Regions from separate parts of the Homo sapiens genome. Here region 2 is linked to region 1. The links come from fine-mapping of genetic effects on gene expression. A gene starts in region 1. The other region holds a variant in brackets. All regions are shown on one strand. Distances are between the middles of the regions. Region 1 holds the start of GLRX5 (glutaredoxin 5). Region 2 overlaps AK7 (adenylate kinase 7).

Region 1 (10,963 bases):
GATTACTGAGTTTCATACTCTTTAAGCGTTTTACAAAAATAATCTTATTTAATCTTTACAAAAATCTGACAAGGCAGGTACAATTATCCCTACTTTACATAAGATGAAGAAACTAAGGCTCAGAAGGGTTAAGTAACTTACCGAAACTCACAGTGACAGCGCAGTGAAACCAGGATTTATATCCAGGCTTCCAGGAGTACAAAAGCCCAGACTCTTAACCACATGCTACCTGAGTCCCTCACCAGAGGTGGCCTCTACCCTCTAGCTGCCATCTCACTCCTGCCCAGGAGCTACAAGTGCACTGCACACATATCTGCAATATATGGGACTGTTTTATGCCTTTAACATTTACATATACAAATGGTATTATGCCATAATTACGTGTTTGCAACTTGCTTTTTGACTAAATATTGTATTTTTGAGATTCAGCCATGTTAAATACATCTAGATCTAGTTCATTTTAACTACAGTTTAGCTTTCCATCATGTGACTAAAGTTTATTTATCTGGTCTGCTGCTAATAGACCAAGATCCCTTCCTGTCAGTTTTTCATTATTGCAAGCCATGCTGCAATGAACGCGCCAACACAGGTATCCTAACACAGAGGTCCCCAACCTTTTTGGCACCAGGGACTGGTTTTGTGGAAGACAATTTTTCCACGGACCAGGGAAGGGTGGGGATAGCTTCGGGATGAAACGGTTCCACCTCACATCATCAGGCATTAGTTACATTCTCGTAAGGAACGCACAACCTAGATTCCTCACATGTGCAGTTCACAATAGAGTTTGTGCTCCTATGAGAACCTAATGTCGTCACTGATGTGGCAGGAGGCGGAGCTCAGGCGGTAAAGCTCACTTACCCACCGCTTACCTCCTGCTGTAAGTCCTCGATCCCTGGCCTGGGGGTTGGGGACCCATGTCCTAACACACACATGCAGAAGTCAGTCTCTAGGCCAGGGACAGATAAACTATGGTCTTCAGGCCAAATCCAGTCTACTTCGTAATTAAAGCTGTATTTTCATAAATAAAGTTTTATTGAAACTCAGCCTGCTCATTCATCTACATATTGCCCATGACTGACTTCAGGCTATATAACAGCAGAGTTGAATAGATGCAACAAAAACCACACAGCCCACAAAGCCTGACGTACTTAGTCTCTGGCCCTTTACTAGGGTAAGTTTGCAGATCCCCCTCTCTAGAATATATACCTAGGAGTCACGCAGCTGGGTCTTAGGCTCTGTTCACCCATAGCTTGACTGGGTACTGATAGTTACTCCTCCAAAGTGTTGGTACCATTTTATACTCCCATCTGCAGCATACATGTGCACCACACAAGCACATACACACAACTTGTTATCCAACTTTTAAGGTTCACCAGCATGACATGTTTCACTACTGTCTTCAATTCCCTGATACTGAAAAGGTGGAGCGTATTTTCAAATGCTTAATAAACATTCAACAACAGGATATGGTTATTTATTCAACAAATCATTTGAGTCCCTATTCTGTCACTGTTCCAGATGCAAGGACTACAATGATGATCTAAATCGGCAGCAAATGTTTATAATGCCTTTAAGGCCGCAGAGTTTGCAATATAATGATAAATAAAAGCAGTATTTATTTATTTATTAAAATGCTCACTGAAAGCTTGCTTTGCATAAGCGGTACACACAGCACCACAGGCAGTGGCATAAGACATATTCCCTCGTCTCTGGAGGGCAAAATACTATGTATAGACAAGCATGGTCTCAATGTGTTAAAAAAAAAAAAACTGTTAGGAACTAGATCTAAATGTTAATACAATAGTTTCCATAAATTACAGGTGATTTTCCTTCTTTAAACTTTTCAGTGTTTTCTACATTGCTTCCATGAGCATAAGTTCCTTTATTAAGACCAGGATTAGGAAATGATGATGTCAGTCTACTGGGACCTGATCCCTTTGTGACTGTCTTCTGTGTGCACTCCAGATAAAAAGAGAAGGACAAGAAGGTCTTGAGAAGGCCAGAACACAATGCTGCCTCATAGTCACCTTTGTTCCTTGGGTCACAGTCTCAAGATGTGTCTGTATCACACTCCTGGGAACCCAGTACTCAAAACTAGGAAAGAATGTTTTCCTCCGGTTTAGGCACTTTGTAAAGTTCAGGTCTCCTTGGCATAAGAACCAACAAAAGGCCAGTTTTGCAAGAGCTCCGTTCCTATTACTAGAAATGACCTTGGATCTGGTGTACAAACATAGTTTCGGCTGGCAAAAGCAAGCATCGGACAGCCCGTTAGTTGCTCTTGGTAAATAAAGCTGTATAGGGAAGAGGGGAAGAGTCTTAATAACCTGGCTGAACTAATCCCCATTTGGGGAACGTGCTTTTACCACCCTGCCCAGTCCAAATGTTAATACTTACTAATCTTTACTTTTCTAATCAATAAAAGAGGTATGTTATATTCAATATATATGCAACGCGTTTATTAACCAAAATAGCAATCTGATGAAACTCAGTGGTCAAGGAATGTAAGGGTTAAATTCCTGTCGCTGCTGTTTGAAAACTTAAGAAAGTAAGCTCAGAAACCAGACACCAGACGTGGATAAAAGACAGAAAAATAAAATGTTATCAGTACATATTCGTATTTTTGCTCCTATTTTCCGTTTACTAGCTATATTCCAGCATATCTCATTTCCAGTTATATTAAACAAGAGAAAATAAATTCACAAACCAAAGACCCTCGAAACATGATACTAAGCGAGATAACAACACCACTTTTTTACTAGTGCCATATTGGCAATTTGCAGGGGACTCCCTGCAAGGTCTCTGTCAAAAGACTGCAAAATAGTTACTCCTCTTTTAAGCAGAGAAGCTGTCTTCGAAGGAAGACTGCAGGTCCCTTGCCTTGCACATGATAAAACTGAGCCCAGTAACTGGTGGCATACTAGTTGACAAGGAAGACAAAAGGGTCATGAGAATAACACATGGTAATATTACATATACGTGGTAATTTGAACCTGCCCTCTCGACTCCTCAACTCAACATGCTTTCTAGGTCCCACCCACCACCACTATCACCTACAGCAAATGGAGGATCAGTTATCCCCAAGAGTCTTTAAGGACTAGATAATCTGGGAAAAAATACATTTGAAAACCATCAAGTGCTAATACGAAGCCAGCTACCATTTACCGGGTGCTTTCTGTGCCAGGTAAAATAATACACACTTTCTATAATTTTTACTTTGGCTTCCTAACACAAACTTTGCCAAATTGTCTCATTATCCTCAAATGCAGGTGAGTGACTTAAGTTTTACACCTGATTAGCCACAGAAGAGGATGTCAACCCAAAGCTTTTCCAAACACCAGCCTGTCTCATCATTGTAAGCAATGACTATGATTAGTAATTTCGAATTTAGAGTAACAGAGAACCTGGCACCTATTTTTAGCACACAACTGGCACCTCTTTTTAGCTAGGGACATGCAGGGACTCAGTCACTGAAAGTCTCTAACTGGGATGCAGGTATCCTAAGTCACTCTCTAGAAGGAAAAGGTACAGCCTTCCCAGTTTTCCACCAACCCTGACCATCCTGGCCAAGGAGCAGGCCCTTGTGCCTGGCCTCTTCCTCCTCCCCTACTCAGATAAGACTGGCGAATGCACGTGGAGTACTTGGAAAAGATGCTTATTAGCTGCAGCCTTCCCTCTCCCGGCCTAATCCATCTGGTCCCTGGTGCCCTGGCCCCCTGGGCTCCAAGGCTGAGCCAGTGAGTTAGCCCAGGGCCCAGGAGCCAGGGCTGCTTCTTTTCCCCACAAACCTCTCCAAGCCCTGGCCCACATAAATTCAGCCCTGTGCTTGAGTATCTAAAGCCAAATGTCATGACTCTTCCCCGACAACATAGATCCCGACTAAGGTCAGCCGACAGCTGTCCCAACCCTTTGCTTGTAGCAACCACAGAGGATGATGCTTGACACCCTGAGCCGTGAGCCAAGCGAGATCAGCCTCCGACCTCACTAGCCTCAAGGGCAACCTCAGCCCTCTCCCCACCATCGACAGCCCTAGACCTTACCCACGAGTAGGCCAATGGCTTCCAACCTCCCCAAAGTGTCCGCGAAAGTACCTATCTCACAGTGGGTCCTTACTATGAGTTTCCTAACCGTGCAGAGCAGTCAGGCAGCGGGCCACCCTCCTCCGAGTCAGTCATTGACAAATCGCCCCGAAACGCCTATATTAGCTCGAAGTGAGGATAAGTGAACCTTTAGGACTTTACCTACTGCTCAAGTTGGCAACAGTACAGAGCCCCAGATCCTCAAGACCCAGTGAAATCAACTACACCCTCAGCCCAGACTCTACTCCAGGGCAGTACTCCTCGCCCTAACCCGGCTCGAACCTTCAGACAGACCCCGGCGGATGGAGCCCCGCTCCCCAGCCCGGCGCGGCGGAACCCCTCGGCCTCGTGCAGCGATGCTCCTGGGCCCGGGGCGGAGGGCGCCTGCCCGGCACACTGGCCTGACCTTGTCGGAGCTCCGGGTCGTCCAGCACGTTGTAGGCCGCGTAATCGCGGACGCCGTGCAGCCGCAGGATCTGCACCACGGCGTTGCTGAAGCCGCACTGGGGCTGCTCCGGCGTCCCCTTGAGGAAGACCACCACCTTGTCCTTCTTCACCAGCGCGTCCAACTGCTCCGCCGAGCCGCCGCCGCCCGCGCCCGAGCCCGCCGCCCGCACGCCCGGACCCCAAAGGCCACCGCCGCCCGCGCCGCGCCCCCAGCGGAGCAGAGCCGCCGCAGCTCGGCCGAGGGACCCGCTCATCTCCGCACGCAAGCCGGAGCCCACGACGGCCCGGGCCCACAGCTGGCCACCCAGAGCGCTCCCCGGCCCGCGGCAGTCCGACCCGCCCCCTGGAGGCCCTCATTGGGCCGGCTCTAAACTGCCCTCCGTGATTGGACAATACTGATCAGTAATTACTCGATTCCACCAATCATGTTGCTCGTCCCGCCCGGCAGGTAGGAGGTGGGCCTTATGCCGGAGCCTCATCCTACTGCCTTACTATTGGTCGTCGGCAACCGCTTTGTTAGTTAATTGGAGAGACTGGATGTCCATCAGGGTCACGCTTGCAGGGCAACGAGAGGCAAAACAAGAGGGAAGACGACTTTCCTCCTGTGAGCCAATGAGGCCAGCTGGACTACGCCGAGACAACTGGGAGAGGCGCGGGACTCGCCCGTTCCGCGGAACGCCGGGAAGGGGTCACCTCCTGATGAAGTTTCCGGTTCCGGTGTCAGCGGCGGTTGAATTGCCATGGCAATGCGGTGGGCGCGCGCTTGTCGTGTTGGTCTCTTGGGAGGTAGCGGGGCTAGGCCGGGCGGGTATCCGCCTCTCCCAGCTTAGGTGAGCGTCCCCGGGCGCCTCCGGAGCGCCGCGGCCGCATGCAGTTCGTCGTGGCGGGGAGCCGGAGCCTGACCGGGGTTCCAGCGCTCGGGCCGTAGCCTTGGCTCCTGGACTTTCCCTGGCTCCGCCGCCACGTGGGAGCTGAGGCTCTGGGGCTTCCGCCTCCGGCGCGCGATTATTTCTCTAGAACAGTTTTCATTTTTAAAATTTGTAAAGCGCTTTTGCCTGTGTGATTTCCTCTGGGTTTTTTTTTTTTTTCTTCCTTTTTGTAGAGACGGAATTGGCGGCGGGGGCGGGGGGTCGATGTCTCACTTTTTTGCCCAGGCTGGTCTCGAACTCCTGGCTTCAAGGGATCCTCCTGCCTCGGCCTCTTAAAGTGCTGGGATTACAGGCGTGAGCCACCGCCCCCGGCCGCCTCTGAGTTTCCAGCCTCGTTGGCCCTCCAGCCTTTTAACCTGTTGGGCCTAGGATCAGGAAAGGTTTGTTGAATGGGGAACTAAGAAGTGAATTCGTTCGTTCGACAAACGTTTCCTGAGCAGCCGCTGGGTGCTAGGCGCAGTGCCAGCGCGGAATGTCCAGGGAGACCTGGTGCCCAAAGCTTGGACCCATCGTGAGAAATGAGAAGCAGATACAAAGCAGTGTGGGAGTGCAGAGGAGACAAAGCAAGCCTCATCAGGCCCATTGCTTGCTCTGCTCTCCCTTGTACTTACCAGTGCTTGACAATATACAGTTATTTACTAGCTTGGTTATTGACTTCCTACCCAGCACTCAGTTTTATTCACTGCTGTATCCTCAGTGCCTAGGACGATGCTTGGAACGTGGTAAGTGCTCCTATTGGCGGGAAGAATAAATCCGGAAGAGCAGGACCAGTGGACTTGCTACATAATCTGTAGTCTTGGAGCCGCACAGGGTTGGTGGTACCCTCGAGCACACCAGACTTGCAGAAAAAGCATACTCCAGAGGAAGCTGAGGCATGCCTGCTCGAGAGCCAGCTGTTCCATGTGCAATTTTCCTCTGATAGTTTCTGGTCACTGTTGCCACGGTGATAATGACTGGGCTATGTCATTATCTATCCGCCAACAGTAAGAGAAGCTTTGCAGTCGAGATATTGTTTAGCAGATGGAGTGTTTTCTGTTGAACACTAAGTACTGCCACAAGTTACTTTTTTTTTTTTAAACTTTGAGTATTTTTTTACAATGTTGCTGGAGGTGATCTGTTTATGCTTTGAGAGTGTTCGAATTTAAAATCAGAAAATCATGTCAGTGAGTGAGTCTTTCAAATAATCCTTCGGCATGAAACCTGAGCCTAGTAAACTATGAAAGTAAACTCGGCACATTACCCGAAAGTCTCAATGTCATATTTTCACCCCCATCAATATTATTGATGATTGCTCATTTTCTAATGTGGGACCTGAAATTTACCAGGTGCTTAAAGAATCTTTTTGTTTTTCAGATTCATTGATTCCAGGTAAATCAGAGGAACAAGCAACATGAACAGAAATATGTAGAAAAAGCTATTATGCAGAAGCATAATTGTTGTTTCAGAAGTCCAGCATCTGGTGCACTTAACAATAGAGAATATATTAAACTCTTTCCAAAATAACCTGTTGTTCCTACCTGTGTTGTAAGTGTTTTGTTTGTTTTTAAGTAAATATTGGTGATTTGTTGCCAAAAACCTAAACTGTTTGTTGCTGTCAACTTAAATAACGAACAGAGAGAGGCTCTCTAAAAGAAAATGGCATTTATTCAGGAATAGAGCACTGCAATGAGAAAATGCATGCGATAGTTAACTGTGTGTATCCTGGGAGATAGAGGAAGACAAAGGTCTTTAAAGGAAAAATGAGGAGGGTTACATAATTGTTTTGAGATAATTATTTTTGACTACAAGGATCAGTAACAAAGGTGACACCAGTCCCAGGTTGGACAGGCAGGTGCTCGGCAGGCATTGCAGAAGTATTTTTTGTGTAAGATTGAGATGGCCTTTGTGCAGGATTGTGGTTTTGGAATCTTCTGTGATCGTTTTTGCTATCAGGCATTTATGCTTGCGAACTCTTTATGGCCTTCCCTGTGTCTATTTTGATTCCACCTTTCTCATTGCCCACTCTAAACTGTAATTCTGCTTTTATGTTGACTGAGATCAGGAGAAGAATTTGCAAACTTATATCCTGAGACAGAACAGTAATGAGGAGTATCGTGTTCCTTACCTAATGTATAATATTGGGCTCAGAAGCAGTTGTCTTTTTTATTTGTTGAACGTTGTATTAAGTTGAGAATGCAGCTGCCATTAAAGATTAAGAGTAATCCTTGAGAAGGAAGAGTACAAAGCCTGTGTTTTGCTAAATCATAGTGAAGTTGCCGTGTTTTTGTAGAATATGATAAGAACATACAGTGTGTGAAATGCTAAGGATATGGAAAAGCATGTTGGTGCTCTTTCAAGGAGCTATTTTGATAGCATGAGCAAGGGCAGGAAACAGATCATGTATCTGAACCAAAGAAATTGAAACAATACATCTAAATTTAAATTTTTAATAAAACAACCCAAAATATAGTGAAATACTTAGCACCAAACATCAGTGATCTTAAGAAGCAAAGAAAACAGTATTCAAAATACTTCGTCCAAAGTATCAGACTTTTGCATAAAGTTTGGCATTTTGGTTTTGAGATTCCTCTTTAGTCCTATGATGAAAACATGACAAAATATACATCTTAAATAAACAGTTGTCATCAGTCTGCATCTATGACCAGATGTTTTGGGTGTTTTGAGTAAATGGCCTGTCTTAGCATGTGATGGCTTCCTGCCTCGTGAACATTAGTGAAGAGGTGAGGGTGGGAAGTACTCAGGAACTTCTGAGAATCCTGGGATTTGAGTCACAGGATTGGTTAAACCCCAAACTAAATAATCATGCCGTGTAAACATGCTGACTCAGGCATCCTAAAAATGTTTTTCTTCCTTGTGTTTATTTATAGATAAGGCTTTACTATATTTGGTAGAACTCCTGTTTTCTATCCACTTCTCCAAAAACAAATTCGCCATTGAATTCATCGTGTAAACCTCCACATATCTGAGATAGCTTCTTCCGTTTATCAGCCCCAAATGAAGAACTAGAGTTCAGATTATTGAACTGAAGGTGATGCTTTATCTGAGCACTCCACATGTCAGTGTTTCTGTACCTTTACTTTTTTAAAAAATTATTTTTTAAAAAGATGAGGTCTCAGTAGGTTGCCCAGACTGGTCTCCAACACCTGGTCTCGAATACTCCTCCCGCCTTGCCCTCCCAAAGTGCTAGGGTTACAGGTGTGAGCCGCCGCACTGGCCCTGTTCATTTTATGCTCAGTGCTGCATTCTTGTTTGTTCTTAGAAAATGAGAGGGTGTGTTTGCATGAGAACGTGTGGTACAGAAGTGTCTATCTGAGCTGGCCAGAACATTCTGCAAATGTCATATTAAGGGCAAAATGGCTGCTTGGATTGTACAAGGGGCCGAACCACCACGCATTCCTAAGCTAAAATAGCAGATTCTATTGACCTGAGCTGGAACCTGAAAGCTTCCTCTGTGATGCACTGAGCTATCATCTAGTAGTTTTAGAGCATCACTGCAACCCTGGAACTACCTGGATTCCCTGATAACACCAAAAATAATGTAATGTATAAGAAACTGAAGCAAAATGCAGCCCTCAGAATTTTTCTAGTCCCTATTGTGGAGATAGAAATGCTTGTTGGATTTCGACTACCTCTATCTGACAAGGCAGCTGGTTTATTAATACTTCTTTGGCCGAGGCTTTGCTCATCCCTGCCGCCCACATCTTGGAGACAGGAAGGCAGGCCAGCCTCCACTGTGTCACACAAGTCCTGCTCCCTTCACCTGCCCTGAGTCACTGGGTCACTGAAGAGAAAGGGCATGCTGTAGATCTGGTTAGTTCAGTCTAGAATAGACCGTGGGAGATAGGTGAGCATTTATGAAAAGCCCAGATGCCATGACAACCCAGTTTTGTCCTGGAATTTGGGTGGAGGTGTAGTCCTGGGTTCTGGTCTTAAACGTCGCTGAGTACTTGAGTTCTTTTTGATTTTCCTCAGATTTTTCCACATCTATTTTCCCCTTTCTGGATTTTGGAAAAATCCAAATTGATGTCTGCCGAAGTTTGTATATAATTGAAGAATTTCTTCATATAAAGGCTGCAGCGTTGTAAGAAATCTGTGTGTACTTTCTCTGCTCATAAATATTTACCCCCAAATGTTATCATCTTGCATAGATTGTACTTTTTTGTTAAATTTTTGTGTGTATACATGAATTCATTCGAAGCATACATTAACCCTAGGATAACAGTTCTCAGACATTTTGGTCTCCAAATTATGTTTTTTTCTAATATAATATGTTGATAGACATTAGCACTTGTGTCTCTAAGTTTTGTTGCCTTCACATGCAATTTCTGTTTTCCTGCTGATTCATAGCATCACCAACAAGTCCTGTAGAAAATCAACTATCCCAGTTATCTTTGCTGGCTCTGCATATATACTAGATACACAGATGATTTTTGGGCTTTGTAAATTAAAATGACAAAAGTTCAATCCAGAGATCTAATAGCTGGACGTGGTGGCTCACATCTGTAATCCCAGCACTTTGGAAGGCCAAGGCGGGCAGATCACCTAAGGTCAGGAGTTCAAGACCAGCCTGGCCAACATGGCGAAACCCCATCTCTACTAAAAATACAAAAAATTAGCCGGACGTGGTAGCGGGCACCTGTAATCCCAGCTGCTTGGAGACTGAGGCAGGAGAATTGCTGTAACCCAGGAGGCGGAGGTTGCAGTGAGCTGAGATCTCGCCACTTCACTGCATACTCCAGCCTGGGCAACAGAGCGAGACTCCAACTCAAAAAAACAGACAAACACACAGAAAACCAAAAATCTAATAAAAAAAAATCTAAGCCTATAGCCTGCTGTTTCTGAAAGCTATGTTCCTCTTGTCCCCACGCTGCTTTCTCGCATTGAGGGCCAAGCTCCTCGGCTGCGTGCCTTGAAAGTCATACACCTGTTGGATTTCATTCTGTTGCAAGCCTTATTTAATAACAAGGACATGGGCCTGAATCATATCTCCCGGAAAGTGGTATTGAGAATTAAGTGGTAATCGTAAAACTTGTTAAGCCTTTTGGTTAAAGGTGATGAAAGAATTGTTTATTTTCCCCAACTGCCTGTTTAATGGCAGTGTTTTGTAGTATTATGTGTTTCTTTTTTTTTTAACCAGCAGATAGTTTCTATAACTCAAATTATTACATTCCAGAGACCTGAAAAGGTCCCTAGATCGCAGAATAGAAAGAGTAAGGAGGCAGTGCTGTTGTGTATCCAACCTGTTAGGAAGATTTATCTGTTAGCAGAAGTTTATGTCTCCCTCTGATAGTCACTGAGTTTGCAGCCAGAAGAACATTTAGGAAATTTAATTGTTTTCTTTTGAATAATTGCTAAGATGTATTGCCAAGGCCATAAATACACTTTATCATGAGTCAGAATTTCACTTTGTACTTCAGTCTTTGAGCTTTAATAATTTCATGCCTTCAAAATGCAGTCTTGCTATTGTGGGAACCCATTGCTCCAGCCTTCTTCAATCGTTCATCTAGGCCT
Region 2 (10,963 bases), 910 kb before region 1:
TGCGTGTGTGTCTGGGGTGCAATGATCGCCATCTTCTTAACCTGAGCCCTACAGCAGTCTTTCTTATTTCCCTCTGTACATATAAAAGAGAAAGGCTATTTTGGTAGTAACCTCAAAGTATATACTGCAAATGCAGATAGTGAGTTTGGGTTTTACGGATATTCTTCTTAGGAGTCCCAGTTTTGTTAGCACAACTGATTGGGGGCAAAACTTTTTAATTTATTTTTATTTTAATTTTTTATTTTTTATTTTTTGGAGATGGAGTCTTGTTCAGCCGCCCAGGCTGGAGTGCAGTGGCACAATCTTGGCTCACTGCAACCACCGTCTCCTGGGTTCAAGCGATTCTCCTGTCTCAGCCTCCCGAGTAGCTGAGATTACAGGCACCCGCCATTATGCCCGGCTAATTTTTGTATTTTAGTAGAGATGGGGTTTCATCATGTTGGTCAGGCTGGTCTTGAGCTCCTGACCTCAGGTGATCCACCCGCCTCGGACTCCCAAAATGCTAGGATTACAGGCATGAGCCACCGCGCCCAGCCAGCAAAACTATTTACGATATGTCATCAAAGTATGGGATGAAACCACTGTACCTTGACTATGTCTTCCAGGGTATGAACAGACTCATCCACAGCAACCAGGTAGTGAGGCTTTGGCACGTGATCTATGACGTTTTGTATCACTCTGCAGACCCACAGGTAAAATAATCATCAAAGGGAAAAAGCGAAAGAGATGCAGTAAACTAGAATTCACTGACCACCACCCCCATGGCTGGGCGTGGGGTTTGGTGCTTTGATAAGTTATCTCCATTTTCAATACGGTCAGGGTTGGGATGGTTATCTGCATTCTCCACATGAGGAAGATGCTAAAGGGTTCGGTGACATTTCTCAGGCTGAAGAGCTATTGCGAAAGTGGAAGAGCCAGCTTTTGAGGTCAGATGCATCTGGTTCTGGACCTGTCTTCTTTCTAGCATACTGCCCTGTCTCCCAACAAGGGGAACTGCCCCCAGCAGGACCGGCCCCCAGCAGGACCCCAGTTTATGAAGCCCTCCCCATCTAGGGGCTCGTGTGAGCCTCACAACAATGCTTTAGGGAGGTATTTTACAAAGTAAGACACAGATTTAGACAAGCTGTGGCTCTTTAAGGAAGTCACGCAGCAACAGTGCCTGAGCCTGCTTTCCTATCCCAGTTGCCAAGGTTTCCGAGCGCTTGCTTCTGTGCTGAGGGTGGCACAGGTGTGATCCCACTAAATTTTCACAGCCCTAGCATGTAGGTGCTGCTCCTATCCCCGTAAGTAACTTCCCTAAATTCACACAGCTAGTGAGAAGCAGAGCAGGGATTGGAACAAAAATTAAATTCCAGAGAGAAACAACAGTGAATAGATGTCTATCACAATGGCTTGTCAATTCTACCTCCATCTTAGCTTCCTTTCAATAAAATGAAAATAAATCGAATGCACGCTTCCAAATGTGCAGTTCACATTTATTTTGTATTCATTTCTTTTTTTCTATATTTATTTATTTATTCACTCATTTATTTATTTATTTTGAGTCTCGCTCTGTTGCCCAGGCTGGCAGGCAGTGGTGTTATCACGGTTCACTGCAGCCTCAAACTCCCAGGGTCAAGTGATCCTCCCGCCTCCACCTCCCGGGTAGCTGGGACTGCAGGCATGAGCCACCAAACCCGACTAATTTTTGTATTTTTTGTAGAGACAGGGTTTCACTATGTTGTCCAGCCTGGTCCCGAACTCCTCGGCTCAGGCGAACCTCCCACCTTGGCCTCCCACAGTGTTGGGATTACAGGCATGAGCCACTGCACCTAGCCTATTTTCTACCCATTTCTCAGAACATTTCAGCTTTTTGCTTTTTCCTCTGTTAAATATTTGACAATCTTCAAAGAAACCTCTGGGGAAAAAATGCTACTTAAAAGGGTCTGTCAAAAGACAAAATTATAACAAATCTAGTTAAAGATTTCAATGGACTTTATTTGTGATTCTAGAATCAGGCAACATTTCATTCCATAAAATAGAACAAGTGTGTCAGTGAAATGAGCAGAGGCGGGTAGTTTGATAGGCAGAAAGGGCTGCAGAAAGCAGAAACAAAGAACAAAAAGCACATTGGTCATTTCAAAGTTAGTTTCCTTGTAAGGCAGGGACAAGGAGAACAACATAAAGATAACTAATGGGGCTGGGCGTGGTGGCTCACGCCTGTAATCCCAGCACTTTGGAAGGCTGAGGCGGATGGATCACCTGAGATCAGGAGTTCGAGACCAGCCTGACCAACATGGTGAAACCCTGTCTCTACTAAAAATACAAAAAATAGCCAGGCGTGGTGGCCGGCGCCTGTAGTCCCAGCTACTTGGGAGGCTGAGGCAGGAGAATCGCTTGAACCCAGGAGGCGGAGGTTGCAGTGAGCCAAGGTTGTGGCACCGCACTCCAGCCTGGGTGACAGAGCGAGACTCCATCTCAAAAGGAAAAAAAAAAAAAGGAAAGATAACCGATAGGTTAGTACCAGGTTACTTTAGGCTACTTTTTGCCATAAGGATTAAAACACAGAGAGCTTTATTATCATGCCTATTGAAGACTGAAACTGGCTTGTTTGGGAAATTAGCTGTTGTTGCTCTCTTTGGCTTTCTCGAAAGGTCAGGTAACAGCTTAGTTTCAGTTTGGTGACTGGAACTTTGGCATGGGTGACTCCATTTTGATTTTCAGTCTGGTCTGTTGGGGCCTAGTACAAGAACTTACTCCAAAACAATGGCCTCCTATAACTTGTTTTTAACAGGCTCTAAGTCCTTCTGTAATGGCAATCATTTCACCCTCTAATTTATGTTTGGACGTAATATGTTAAGGATTAATGCCAAGTAAGTTATATTAATAATGTAAAAGACTCTTCTGTATCTTTGAAACCCAGTAATGTCATAATGTAAAATCTCTGCAGAAAAAAATGGGTATGTTTCGGCCCCTCCATCCCCAGGGATGGAGCAGATCCAGGGTTTTGTAGTGCCTGAAGCTTAGCCCATTTACAGCAAGCTTGTCAAACCAGGGCCTGTGGGCTGCGTGAGGCCCAGGATGGCTTTGAATGTGGCCCAACACACTTTGTAAACTTTCTTAAAACATTATGAGTTTTTGGGCCGGGCGCAGTGGCTCACGCCTGTAATCCCAGCACTTTGGGAGGCTGAGGCGGGTGGATCATGAGGTCAGGAGATGGAGACCATCCTGGCTAACATGGTGAAACCCCATCTCTACTAAAAAAATACAAAAAATTAGCCAGGCATGGTGGCGGGTGCCTGTAGTCCCAGCTACTTGGGAGGCTGAGGCAGGAGAATGGCATGAACCTGGGAGGTAGAGCTTGCGGTGAACCGAGATTGTGCCACTGCACTCCAGCCTGGGCAACAGAGTGAGACTCCATCTCAAAAAAAAAAATTATGAGTTTTTTTTGTTATTTTTTTTAAAGCTCATCAGCTATCGTTAGTGTTAGTGTATTTTATGTGTGGCCCAAGACAAATCTTCCAATGTGGCCCAGGGAAGCCGAAAGATTGGATATCCCTGACTCATAGGATCCTTCTTTAAGAAAAATAATAAAAATTAGGTTCAGGGTCTTGGAAAGGGATCTGCTCAGGGGTGTGGCCCTGAAGTTTAAACTTCCTTCATTTCCCAGTAAGTCTAGAAATTTATCTGAGATTGTGACTAATTTACTAGTGGCCAGTGGATGAGAGAAAGAGTGGGAATCTGAAAACCAGAACCTCAGGGAAGTGCAGAAATTGCTCCTTTCTGGGGATGTGCCACAGGGGTGACAGAATGAAGTCCCCGGAAGCTGGAGCTGATGAACCACAAACACAGTGAACCAACTCATTGACCTCACGTTTAAGTCAGGGTCTTCAAAGGAAGAGAAGGGTTTCTGGACCTGTCTGAATACAGGGTTTAGATGCTCTGTGAGTATAAAAAACATATGTCAACTTTACCTACAACTGTCAAAGAAGGAAAAAGCTTCAGGTTTACAGTTTTCCATTTGAATTCTAGAATTTAAGTTGACGGGTTAGACATATTAATCTCATCTGGGACAAAGGAATAAGAAACTACGTCCTCAGAATGTACACACCAAGTTCTTTCTTTTCCAAAATTGGAGGGCATTGCTATTCTGTCGATAGTTTCTAAGAGATGAACCTGAACTTGTCACCAGAAATGTAGAACTTTTGAACAGTGGGCACTATTTCATTAGATGCAAAATGGAGAAGACGGTACCTTCTGCATAGGGTTGTTACGAAGAATGAACACAATAATCCATGTAAGGGTCTTAGCACTAGGCAAATGCTCAAAAAGTATTAGGCTACAAACAAACACATTAACCAATTCTGTGAAGGTCACGTCTCTGGGCGAATGCTTACCCTGCTAGATCAAGAACATGGATTGTTGGAATTACATTTGTTCCATCGCCAAAAACTGGTAATGCAGGAATCTCGCCCAACCAAGCCATCTGAAAGGAAGAAAAGCAAAATCATGTCCCCCAGTTATATGTGGATGGCTATTACAGCTCACACATAAGTCTACAGTCAGAGGCAACTGAAAGGCCTAGCTATCTGCTTAAGTAATTTCCTCTAGGGGGTGTTTTATAAATCAGCCCTGATGAGATTTAGGATCAAATTCTGCCAAGAGAAATAGTGTGTAGCCCTGGGACTGAATCAAATTCTGCCAAGAGAAATAATGTGTAGCCCTGGGACTGAATCAAATTCTGCCAAGAGAAATAATGTGTAGCCCTGGGACTGAAATACTTTTCAAGAAATCTACAACCTCTCAGCCGTATTTAGTAGCTATACGCATGGCATTCACATAGAGAAGAAATGTTTTCACATGCATGATGTCTTAATTCTCACAAAAAGACAAATTAAAATTTAAAATTACCCCCACCAGTAGGGATGAGGTGAGGGGAAATAAGTACCATCAGTCCAGGGGTGAAATGCTTAGCGGATAAGTAGCATGCAGGAGGATACACTTGTGAGAGCTTGGACTGGAACCCCGATCCTCAGAGTCCAAATCCTCATCTTTTCTTCTCATTAAGTATTTCAGTAACCAAACAGACATGATGAGTACTGTTTAAGTGTCACATATTAGATTATTTTGAATTGTTGTTAAGAGTGAAAGAGGTAGGGGTAGGGGTCACAGTAGACCACTGGGTCTTGTAAGATATTTTGGACTTTCAGAAAGTATTGAAGGGTTCTAAGCAGTGATGTGACACCAGCAGGCTTGCTTTTGTTGCCTTGTGGAGAAGTGGCGGGAAGGAGAGTCCAGTGGGGACAGAGGGGTGATGGCAGGTGTGCAGGCGAAATAGGGTAGCTTAGCCTGGAGGTGGGAAGTGCAGGGAGTGGGGATGGAGAGAAGGGAGACATTGAGGAGGCTGACTGTAGTAACTGGGAATTTTATGATGGGTAATGTGAAAGGAAAATAAACCTTGGGACCCCAAAATCACTAAGCCAAAGGGAAAAGTCAAGCTAGGAACTACATAAAGCAAACCTGTCTCTCATTCAAAGATTTTATTTTGTTTTCTTTTTTTTTTTTTTTTTTTTGAGACGGAGTCTTGCTGTGTCACCCAGGCTGGATGGAGTGCAGTGGCAGGATCTCAGCTCACTGCAACC[T/C]CTGCCTCCCAGGTTTAAGTGATTCTCCTGCCTCAGCTTCCCGAATAGTTGGGATCACAAGCATGTGCCACCACACCTGGCTAATTTTTGTATTTTTAATAGAGATGGGATTTCACCATGTTGGCCAGGCTGGTCTCGAACTCCTGACCTCAGGTGATCTACCCGCCTCAGCCTCCCAATATGCTGGGATTACTGGCGTGAACCACCATGCCTGGCCTCATACCTTCCTCACAATTTGCCCACTATGAAATTATCTGTAGGCCCCAAGAGCTTTACCCGAAAACAGTTCTGTTGAATTTCACCCTGACAATGTAAATTGACAGCTTATCTTCACAGGTACAGGACAAGGACAGAACTCAAAGTCATCCCTAGGCTCACCTGACACAAATGCCTATCTGATTGCTTCCTCGGCCCTATGTCTATTTTATCTTACATAAAAATGCAGATTCGCTGAGCTAGATAAATGCATAAGTGACTATTCCTCTACCCTTCCCTCATGTCGAACAGCTGATCAAAGACTCAAAAGAATGTGCCCGCTTGCCTCTTATCTACCCACACCTTTTATTTATTTTTTGCAGATGCAGGGTTTCACCATGTTGCCCAGGCTGGTCTCAAACTCCTGGGTTCAAGCCATCCACTCACACTGGCCTCCGAAAGTGCTTTACTGGGATTATAGGCATCAGCCACCATGCCTGGCTTACCCACATCTTTAAAAAATTTCTTCCTCTTTCTCTAATATCTACCCTTTTCCCTTTAAATATTGAAGCACTCAAAGTCATCTTTGGAGAAAGGCACAGGCCTATCTCCTGGGCGTGCATCCTTAACCTTGGCACAATAAACTTCTAAATTGATTGAGACCTGTCTCAGAAACTTTTTGGTTTGCAGTAAGGAGGGAGGAGTTGGATTCTGATCATGTAGCTGGTTGGAGGGTTACCCCATTTTCTGAGATGGGGCCTTGGAGGAGGAGCAGGTTTGGGGATGACTGTAGGTATAGTTTGGATTTGGGAAAGACATCCAAGTTGAGGTGCTGAGTAGGCAGCTGGACCTACAGAGCTAGAACTTAGGAGAGAGAGCCTCGCTGGAGACTGAAGTTTGAGTCATTGGTATCAGTCATAGGAATAAACAGACCAAGGGAGAGAGAGCAGAGGGTGAAGAAAAAAGGTCTAGGGCCGAGGCCTGCGAATGCCAAGATTCAGTGAGCAGGTAGGTGAGAAGTAGCTGAGAATGGACAATGAGTAAGAGCTTCCTTGAGCTTCTCCTCTGCAACTGTCATATCTCTTGTATTAAAAAAATCAGTTCGAGGCCGGGCACGGTGGCTCACGCCTGTAATCCCAGCACTTTGGAGGCTGAGGCGGGCGGATCACGAAGTCAGGAGTTCAAGACCAGCCTGGCCAATATGGTGAAACCCTGTCTCTACTAAAAATACAAAAATTAGCTGGGCATGGTGGCACACACCTGTAATCCCAGCTACTCGGGAGGCTGAGGCAGGAGAACTGCTTGAACCCAGGAGGTGGAGATTGCAGTGAGTTGAGATTGCACCACTGCACTCCAGCCTGGGTGAAAGAGTAAGACTCCTTCTTTAAATAAATAAATACATAATAAATAAATCAAATAAAAATTAAAAATCAGTTCAACCAACCTCTCTTGACTACACTTTATCCTTTAACTCCGCCTTCTTTCTTTGCACCCCCCTCCTTTTACAGGAAAATTCCTTGAAATATTTCTCTGTTCTCATTGTCTTCAATTCCCCTCCAGCTGTTCCTCTTGAACCTGCGGCTGTTAGACTTTTGTCCTACCTAGTGCCAAAAAATTTAGCGGTCAATTTGTAGGTTTCATCTTAGTTGATTATCTGCAGTATCTGACACAATTTGTCATTCTTTCTTTTTAAAAACTTTTTTTTTTTTTTTTTTGAGATGGAGTCTCGCTCTGTCACCCAGGCTGGAGTGCAGTGGTGCAATTTCGGCTCACTGCAAGCTCCGCCTCCTCGGTTCACACCATTCTCCTACTTCAGCCTAACGAGTAGCTGGGACCACAGGCTCCCGCCACCATGCCCGGCTAATTTTTTGTATTTTTAGTAGAGACGGGGTTTCTCCGTGTTAGCCAGGATAGTCTTGATCTCCTGACCTTGTGATCCGCCTGCCTTGGCCTCCCAAAGTGCCGGGATTACAGGCGTGAGTCGGCCAAAAATATTTTTTTTAATAATTATTTACTTTTCTCTTATTTCCTCTCCTGCTTCCTGCCCACCCTTCTCAACCTCCTTTCCTAATTCCTTCCCATTTCCCTATAACCTCCAATATTGGAGGGTTCCAAGACTCAGTCCTCAGGCCCCTATCTCTTCTCCATATTCATTCAGTAGTTGATGTCATCCAGTCCCAAGGATTTAAGTACCCACTGTATACTGACAGCTCCCATGATTATATCTCCAGACCTGACCTCCCCCATGATCACCAAACTCTTTTTGTCCAATAGCCTTCCCAGTATCTATACTTGGATATTAATTATCTCAAACTTCCTGAACTTTTCATTGCATTGTACCCCAACCAGCTCCATTCCCTGTCTTCCCCATTTCAATAAGTGGCAGTGCCATACTTCTAGTTGCTTAGACCAAAATCCTTAAAGTTATCCTTTACTATGTTTCTGTCATCCTTACATCCAAGCTTTGAACAAATCCCATTGACTCTCTCTTCAAAATACGTCTGAAATCTGAACAGTTTCCAGTATCCCCACCATGCCCACCCAGGTCTTAGGCACTACCCTGCTCACTGGTTTCCTTGCTTCCTGCTCCTGCCCATGCCCCAAATAGTACATCCTCAGCACAGCAGAAGGAGAAAGCTGTCCTTTTATATCATATGGATTATGTTGCTTCTGTGCTCAGTCTAATGGTTGTCCAACTCACTCAGAAAGAAAGCCAGAGCTTCACGAGGGGCTACCAGGCTGGGCTTGGTCTGACTCTCTCATTACCGCTTTGACCTCATTACCGCTGTTCTCCCATACTTCAGCTAGATTGATCTAGATTGGTCTTCAAATGTAGCCAGCACATTTCTGCCTCACTTCTTTGCAGTAACAATTCTCACTGTCTGGGATGTCTTTCTCCAGAAAGCCGATTAGCCAGCTCCTTCATTGCCTTTCCCTTCCTACTCAAATGTCACATCGTTGGAAAGACCTTCCTCAACCTTCCTATATAAGATATAACAGCCCCAATCCCCGCAACCTTACTCCCCAGCACTCTCTGCCTTTCTCTGCTCTGTTGTTTTCCATACCCTGTTTCAACATCTGAAATACTCAACATTTACCGGCTTGCTTATTATCTATCTCTTTCTCCATCCCCCTAGAATGTAAGCTTCGCAAGAGGAGGGACTTTATTATTTTACTGTATCCCAAGTACCTACAACAGTTTCCAGCACCTGATGGGCACTACATCAATATCTGTTTCATGAATGAAAGGAGATACGTCTTTTTCATTATTATTTTGAGAGTGGTGAATACAAGTTAATAATGGGAAAGAAACGTAGGTCTTTGTGGTGACATCCATACTTGCCTTCATCTTCTGCTATTCTACTGCACTAACCACACCCAAAGCAATCAAAAACACCTTCAAATTGCGTATCTGTATCGTAAGACACTTTTAAACATTCCACGTCATCATTGAAAGCCATACCTTAAAAAATGTGTGTAACATGCCTCCTTCCGCTCCATACTGGAGTCCAGCAGCAACTACGTATGCTGCAAATTTTCTGGCCTATTAGATAAAATACAGAAAAAAAAAGCTGGATGTAATATTATTAGTCATACTGAACCAGATTATTTTAGTAGTTAAAATGAGCACTTTCAGAACTTCCGTCAACTCTTGCAGGTTACTGAGTATTGTTCGGGATACAAATCCTATCTCTTAAAGAGAGAAACGACACCCCCGCACTATTCAGGAATACCTCTGACTACTATTAAAATTTAACAAGGACTCCTAATTAAATTAAAGCCAGGGTTTTTGTGAAAACTTTGTACCTGTAAGCTCTATGCTCGGCACTGAGGGGGAAAAGAGAAAGAAAAACAGGTCTTTCCACGAGGATCTTTAATGATCTAGTACCTGAAACCAAGAAGCTGGTAATGGGCCTTAACACAAGGATGGAAATTCACATGGATTGTCCACTTCACTCTGGACAAGCAGTTTAGGCACTGTAAGAACTGGAGTCAGTATTCCTTTATTTTTAATTTTTAATATTTGTGGGTACATAATAAGTATATAGATTTATGGGGGTGCATGAGATGTTTTGATACAGGCATGCAATGTGAAATAAGCACAACATGGAGAATGGGGTATCCATCCCTTCAAGCATTTATCCATTGAATTACAAACACTCCAATTATACTCTTTAAGTTATTTAAAAATCTATAGTTCAGTTATTACTGACTATAGTCTCCCTGCTGTGCTATCAAATAGTAGGTCTTATTCATTCTTTCCAACATTTTTTGTACTCATTCACTATCCCTCCCTCCCCCCACCCCCTACTACCCTTCTCAGCCTCTACTCTCTGCCTCAATATTTAACCAGATAAGCTCAAAATACCATCTTTATTATTGATATGAGTTCTGCTGGAGGCCATGCCTTAGGTGAGCCATGATGATGAGCTTCCTAACCCTGAATCCAGAATAAGATGAACTTTTCCAACCAGTCCCAGGCCACACTGGACAGCGAGGGACTCCTCCACATGGCGGCCTGCTGCTGTAAGTCTCAGGGCATGAGGAAGGTGAAATGCACAGTAGCCACCATCCCTGGAGTCCCAGAGAGAAGGGAAGGAGGAGGGGCCAAGCTCACATGGCCAGGCCCTCCTCAAACCCACCAATCAGAAAACTCGCTTGAACTTCTTCAGGCGAACAGGGGATGGTGCAAGAAGACAGGAGTTTTTTGTTTGTTTGTTTGTTTGTTTGTTTTGAGACAGAGTTTCACTTGTTGCCCAGGCTGGAGTGCAGTGGCATAATCTAGGCTCACTGCAACCTTGGCCTCCTGGGTTCAAGTGATTCTCCTGCCTCAGCCTCCCAAGTAGCTGGGATTACAGGTGAGAACCACCATGCCCAGGTAATTTTTGTACTTTTAATAGAGACAGGGTTTCCCCATGTTGGCCAGGCTGGTCTTGAACTCCTGACCTCAAGTGATTCACCTGCCTCGGCCTCCCAAAGTGCTGGGATTACAGGTGTAAGCCACTGCGCCCGGCCTACAGGAGTTTTTAGGAAGAATGTTACTCAGGCTCTTGTGGGAAGGTAGTGATCTCACCTCACAAATATTAGGCCTGAAAAGGAGGACTTAACCACAAATACAATAGAGATTTTAAAAATTGTAAGACAGA

Evidence for each region. PIP is the estimated chance that this variant, and not a neighbour inherited with it, causes the effect. A credible set is the group of variants that fine-mapping cannot tell apart.
Region 2: its variant is the best candidate, but not a certain one, in a credible set for the expression of GLRX5 in CD8 T cells (CEDAR, PIP 0.68).

The regions. Positions count from the first base shown.
Region 1 is chr14:95,528,904-95,539,866 of GRCh38, reverse strand. GLRX5 (glutaredoxin 5) reads right to left here and starts at 4,817. Exons shown (of 2, transcript NM_016417.3): 1 at 4,483-4,817. The coding sequence starts at 4,777. It overlaps SNHG10 (small nucleolar RNA host gene 10), which reads left to right and starts at 4,995. Exons shown (of 1, transcript NR_003138.3): 1 at 4,995-6,955. It also overlaps SCARNA13. RefSeq lists silencers at 4,385-4,444, 4,655-4,944 and enhancers at 5,085-5,544, 4,808-5,597, 5,598-6,387.
Region 2 is chr14:96,436,232-96,447,194 of GRCh38, reverse strand. It overlaps AK7 (adenylate kinase 7), which reads right to left. Exons shown (of 18, transcript NM_152327.5): 6 at 9,280-9,360; 7 at 4,377-4,465; 8 at 588-678. Among named protein-coding and RNA genes, the nearest start is that of AK7, 50 kb to the right of the region's middle. The variant T/C (reference allele first, on the strand shown) is at 5,622.